Linked DNA regions of Homo sapiens. The protein of the gene in region 2 interacts with the protein of the main gene of each other region in a pairwise test. Each region holds a gene or a part of one and is shown on either strand. Other genes may lie near its edges.

Region 1 (3,500 bases), on a different chromosome or scaffold from region 2:
TGCAGTCCGAAAATACTACATACAATTAGATATTCGGAGAGAGAGACACCACATTTACATAAATGTTATTTCAGTATACTGTTATAATTGTTCTATTTTTATTAGTTGTTGTTGTTACTGTGCCTAACTTACACATTAAACTTTATCACAGGTATGTATGTATAGGAAAAAACATAGACTATATAGGATTTGGTACTATCCACGGTTTCAGGCATCCACTGGGGGTCTTGGAACGCATCCCCCTCAGATAAGGGGGGACTACTGTAAACAGAAAATAACAACAATTCAAATTGTTAAAAACAATTCTTGAAAGTTATCCTTTACAATAGATTAATATATATGATCTGAGCTGAAAGAATGGCAAGCAATGGAGACAATATTTCTCTTCTGTTTCTAGTAGATATTTTCAATTTTAAGCATAGTTTTAAAAAGTACAACCCTCTTTTAAGGGCTTAAACCAAGGTGGCTGTGCTGATTGGCTTAGCTGGCTAGTTCACAGTGCCAAGGACAGGGTTTCAATCTCATTCTTCTCAGTTGTCCTGCCAGAGATTGTTCTTTCAGACCAGGCCAGCCATTTGACAGATGTAAGCCACTGGCCTCAAGGAACACAAGCCAGACAGTGGTGGTCAATGCAAACCTTGAGCATCACTGGAAAAATTAAGCAGGTGTCCTACTGCATTATTTCCATACATAGAAAAACCACAGAAATACATTCTATTTTTAAAGAGTTGTTTTTCAACTATTAATACCTATAAGGTTTAAAAATATTTTCAGAGAAAAAAAATTTAGCAACTAGAATTTATAATGCTACCATTTACTATCATTATTTGTCCTTCACTTCATTTGTCACCTTACCAGAGAATTCCTTGCCACTCTCATCTCCTTAATCTGCTTATTTTTCTTCTTACTACTTTCCACTAACTGATGTTATATTAAATATTTATTTATTTGGTGTCTGCCTCTCCCAACTAGAATGTGAGCTGCCTGACAGAGCAAGGCCTTAGCTTGGTGTGTGTTTCTGGTATATCTTCAGGGCCCAGAACAGGGCCTGGCACACCCACAACTGAATAAACTTTTGATGAATTCTGTCACATATTTATTACAGGAGCTTAATTCATGGATATCTTTAACAGGACATCAAAAACAGTAGATCATTTACAAGCCAAGAACATACTGCTAACTATTGAACCAGAATGTATTTGTTGTCTATAGGCAGCAGCCTATATAGCAAAAGAACTCAAGACTTTTGACATAGCCCTTCCAAGTTTCAAAGGTGTGCAACATCTTCACCATTTATTTCCATGGGATCATTCAATGTGGGTGACATTTAGACACTGAAAGCAGGGCAGTGGGACTGGCTATTCAATTCATCCTCAGTAATAAAATCTAAAATTATCAAAACCAGTGTCTTTCTCAATCAGACTATTAGAAATAAGTACCAGAGAAAAGAAACAGAATAACAATATACTTATACATTAAAGCTTTAAAAAAGCTCCACCTTATTTTTCAACTCCAACTGACACAGAAATAAACTAAAATTTAAATAGATAATGTATAGACTACACTCATACTCTCACATTCTCTCCCATTGCTGAACTTAAAAATTACTGAATTAGATTATCCGGAAGGTAAAAGGACAAATGCAATAGGAAGGATACAATAAAGAAAGGCCATGGATGAACAATGTAAATCTCTGGAAGAATTCCCAAACCTCAACCCTTTAGCACAGTGGACTACAGTACCATTTTATCCTTTTTAGATGTATATGTATTTATTTGAGGCCACGTGCAACAGAAAAATATACCTATTTACAATCATACTGCTAGTCAGTGACAGTACCAGACCTGTAACAGCGACAGTACCAGACCTGCAACTAATGTCTCTGAACTCATAGCTTTTCCTACCATATTTTGCAGTCTTTACTCTCAGAAAGAAATATGAAGAAACTGTTTTAATTTTCATGCCCTGAATCAAACTTTGCCCACTCCAGTGTGAAATGATAAGAGTACCAGTCAAGAAATCAGAAGACCTGGGTTTCATCCTGGTTCAATACTACCAACTAGTTCCATGACCTTGGGCAAGCTACTTCACCTCTCAGAGTCTCAGAAAGGGTTAGTCTGATATAATTTCCAAGCTTCAGCCATTCACAGACTACATTAATAATTTTAGCCACATTCACGCTGTTAATTTACTTGATATGTCACTTTGAATGTACAGTTTTAAAATGTAAATAACTTTAGTCCTGTCCTAAGCAAAATTTATGAAATTTATGTTAATATAATTTTTCTAATTTACATTAAAATATGTAAATGATAATGCATGCCCACTCACCATAAATTACATCTTGGAAAGCATAAAATATTTTTAAGGTCCATCATAGCTCTAAAATTCTAATATGCTAATTAAGTCTCACAGTTTTGCTATCATAAAAACAAGGGTTAAAAATTATAATCTCATCATCCTGAGTTACGTAATGAGCACCCCCACCATTTTCCACAACAGCTCCTCTATAGTCACAAAGTTGGCTATTTCCCTAATACAATGATTCCTTTACTTTTACTTTAGGGTTCTTACTTATATATAAAAATTACTCAGGCCACTGAATTAAAAACTGGAGATAATAAAAACTAAGAGAAACAGTGCAAATCACTAAATAAAAGGGATATATATGTGTATTTCTCAATTCAACAAAGGTCCAATAACTAAAATAGATTTGCTTCTGGGGATTCTAAACAAAAAGTTGACCCCCATCCCCCATCTTTCTCTTTCCCACTACTCAATTTTCATCTTCCTCAGTCTCCAAAACCTTTTTAAGAAGATACTGGAGCCTCCCTAAGAGAACTGAGTTATGTGTGAGAAACAAGACACAAGGACACGGAAGTGTCACTGGCTGGTACATACTATTTTGGTAAAAATAATTTTTTTAGGGCTCTCGAATTATCAAATTATTACTGCTTTTCATACCTGAACCAGCCAGATGCCATCTTTTGTGTCTTCCACAAGCTCATAGAAGTGCATTTCACCACTGAAATTGGTACTAGAAACCGATTCGGATGCTTCTTCTTCCTTGAGAGCAGAATAGAGCTCACCCTCCATCAAGTCACCTGAAGAAAGGAAAAGAATAACACTAATAAGGTTGCAAGAATCCTAGATTCCCAATTTCAGTAATTCTATTTTTTACACTGTTAAGAATCATGATATTGTACTTTCATTGTATTTTATAGACAAGAACTACTAGAAGAACCTGGATATACCCACTTAGGAGTCATACATTCAATAAATATGTAGTAAGAACTTCCTATGCATCAGGGAAAAGTGAACAAAATAGACAAAAATCCATCTCTTATAGAACAGGGCTTATATTTTAGTGGGGTTATCACATAATTATTAGGAACTTACCAAATTTGTACCACTCCAAAAAGGCACAACTTTCTTAATTATTTAGTTTTATGAATGACACATACAGGCTTCATATACATTTTTAAACAGTATGGCTTATA
Region 2 (3,072 bases):
AGAGAGTGTATGTGCCAAGGACTAGAACAAGAATTGGATCTCTCCTTTTCCCAGTCAACTCCTCACTCACCATATTAAAACTGGAGTTCTTGAGGTATGTTAAGATAGATCAGCTTCTATTCAGGCATTCCTTCCACATACTCAAAATACCCTCAGATATTTTATTAACAAAAAATTTTTCATAAAAAAATAGTCATTTAATCATTCTAGAGACTCATCACAAAATACAAGTCACAATATTAACATATGAAAATTAAAATTACAATTAACATCTCACCAGGATCAAAGAACCCTAACTTCAACTTTCAGGATAGAGAGCTAAGTTTCAAGTACATGTCTAGATTCTATGTGCCTCTAATGATAATGATGTACATAAACCTGTCTTAAATCGGCAAACAGACGAGGCATGGTGGCTTGCACCTGTAATCCCAGCATTTTGGGAGGCTGAGGCAGGAGGAATGCTTGAGCCCAGGAATTCAAGATCAGCCTGGGCAACATGGTGAGACCTCGTGTCTTTAAAAAAAAAAAAAAAAAAAAAAAAAAAAAAAAAAATTCTATCCATCCAGGCATGGTGGCACACACCTGTAGACTCAGCTACCCGGGAGGCAGGAGGATTGCTTGAGCCAAGGTGGTCAAGGCTGCAATGACTGTTCCACTGCACACTCCAGCCTGGGCAACAGAGGAAGACCGTCTCAAAAAACAAAAAACAACCCACACACAATTTATGTTGAGAAAGCAAGTCTCCCACAAATTATTTTTAAAAAATGATTCCAGGCTGGGTGTGGTGGGTCATGCCTGTAATCGCAGCACTTTGGGAGGCTGAGGTGGGCAGATCACTTGAAGTCAGGAGTTCAACACCAGCCTGGCCAACACGGTGAAACCTTGTCTCTACTAAAAATTAGTCAGGTGTGGCAGCACATGCCTGTAATCCCAGCTACTCAAGAGGCTGAGGCAGGAGAATCGCTTAGACCCAGGAGGTGGAGATTGAAATGAGCCAAGATCGTGCACTGCACTAAAGCCCGGGTGACAGAGCAAGACTCCGTCTCAAAAATAAATAAATAAATAAATAATAAAAATAATCATTCCACATCTCAAAATGACTTAGAAATTTAAATGGAAAAAATAAATAATTTGCTTGGACAATAATTTGGCTTTGGGAGAGTCCTCATCCGAAAATAACAAAATTTCCTTAATATTAGTACTAAAGAACTAATTACAGCTAACAGCTCATTTACCAAGTAGTCAATTATTCAACAAATTTAGCCATCTACTGACAAACTGAAATTAGTATCAGAAACTCCATGTATTTTATTTGTAGGAGAGCATTTTAAATTTTTCAAAAATTCATGGCATAATTTTAATAATCGTCCTTCTGTAGAATCCCTAACCTCAGAAAAAAAAAAGAGAGAATAAATTAGAAGTGAGAAAAGGAAACTGCGGAAGACTGACACATTGGACATCAGTGGGAAGAGGCAGAAAAATAGGAAGAAAAATAAAGGACAGATTTAAAACAATTTAAAAAGGACTACAAAGAGGATTGGGGCCAGTTGGTGCAGATTAAAAGACACCTTCTTCACAGACCTCAATCATGCACAGGCAGTAACGGCATTACTATAACACAGAACAGTATAGTAGCTGATTCTGATAATGAATCCTCAGAAAAGAAGAATATGGTTAAGCTTCAGTTCTTTTTGAAAAGCAATTTACATACACAATTACAAATAATTGTAAATTTTAAGCATTCAGCTAAGATATGTACAAAAAAATTAATGAAAGTGAGATCAAGAAATATAAGCAGCAGTAACCATAAAGGCTTAGAACTAGTGACACTGAATTCTTTATTTAAAAAAATTTTTGTAACACACAGTACCTCCTCTTCTCTTCTATTTTTAGGAAGAAGTTATAACAAGTTTTAAATATCTCAATTCTGAAAAACAATAGGCTTTTAAAAAATAAGACTTGATTACCAGAAACAAGTAATATGTAGTTACATAACCATTTTCATATCACTACTCATTTCCATTATTTACCAATTCATCTTTGATGCAACTTGGAAACAATTAAGCAGTCACTAGACACCTGTTTTAGAATCTGAAGAAATTATTATCCACCACAGGAATCTAATGATATATATATTTGCATATATTTAAAATTTCATGAGGGAAAAGGTAATAAACTATTCTAGTTATTTTATACCAAATATTGATATTCCTAGTCAAAACAACAAGGAATTAAGATCTTTCTCCAGGTGAACTGCTGACTATATAGAAGCTATTTCCAGCACTTTCTTCTGGGGATTAAAAATGATTTATTTCCCTGCTGGCTAAAATGATAAATTATATATTACAAGTAAGTCCTTCAGAAGTGAATATTAATTCCTTAAGAGAACCATAAAATGTATTTTTAAAAAATTCTCTTAAAAACTGAAAACAATCCTTCTCTCTAAACCTATGGCATTAATCCCTACTTGACCAAAGAAAAAAAAAAAAAAGAAGGGCATCATGTTCATGATCTAAGCATGCATAAATAAGGAAGCAAATGTATCACTGTCTTAATAGAATTTGGCAAACCAGAAGAATGGCCTAAAAATAAATAAATAAATAAATAAAAGAAGAAGAGTGTACCTTATCTTCTAAGTATGAAAGTCTAATTCTGTAGGCCTATGTCGCAAATAGTGCCCCACGAGGAAATGCAGGGAGGAGGCAAGTAGCATATTCCTATATACATTTTCTTGATATTCTGGTTGTCTTTCAACAATGCATTACAGAGAAATATTCTTTTTATTATTACAAGCCATTAATTGCTCTCTGTAGAGCAATGACTCAGATAAATGCCTTATGACTTTTAATAATGTAACTAACATATAAATTAAATCTAAGTGCAAGGAGTTTTCAATGATTCCTAAATTCAAGAGAGTGTTGTTAGCCTGATTATGAATTTTAAATGTCTGTGCTCCTATATTTTAGGATATTTCATCTTATTTTCTACTCTTTAAACCATAAGATGTACCGAAATTATTTCATTTTCCTCTACTTTCCTCTGTGTCATTTTAGTTTACTTTATGGTATTTAT

What was found.
Region 1: the proteins of UBE2W (region 2) and RNF103 interact in a two-hybrid assay, tested with the Homo sapiens proteins (one large-scale study listed by BioGRID and IntAct).

What each region holds. Positions count from the first base shown.
Region 1 is NC_000002.12:86,617,366-86,620,865, forward strand, and holds part of RNF103 (E3 ubiquitin-protein ligase RNF103), read right to left. Parts: intron 3,105-3,500; coding exon 2,965-3,104; intron 649-2,964; coding exon of another isoform or gene 646-648; exon of another isoform or gene 1-645. Other genes in the region: RNF103-CHMP3 protein, read right to left, coding at 2,965-3,096. UniProt on the Homo sapiens protein: Acts as an E2-dependent E3 ubiquitin-protein ligase, probably involved in the ER-associated protein degradation pathway.
Region 2 is NC_000008.11:73,788,791-73,791,862, forward strand, and holds part of UBE2W (ubiquitin-conjugating enzyme E2 W), read right to left. Parts: 3' UTR 1-3,072. UniProt on the Homo sapiens protein: Accepts ubiquitin from the E1 complex and catalyzes its covalent attachment to other proteins.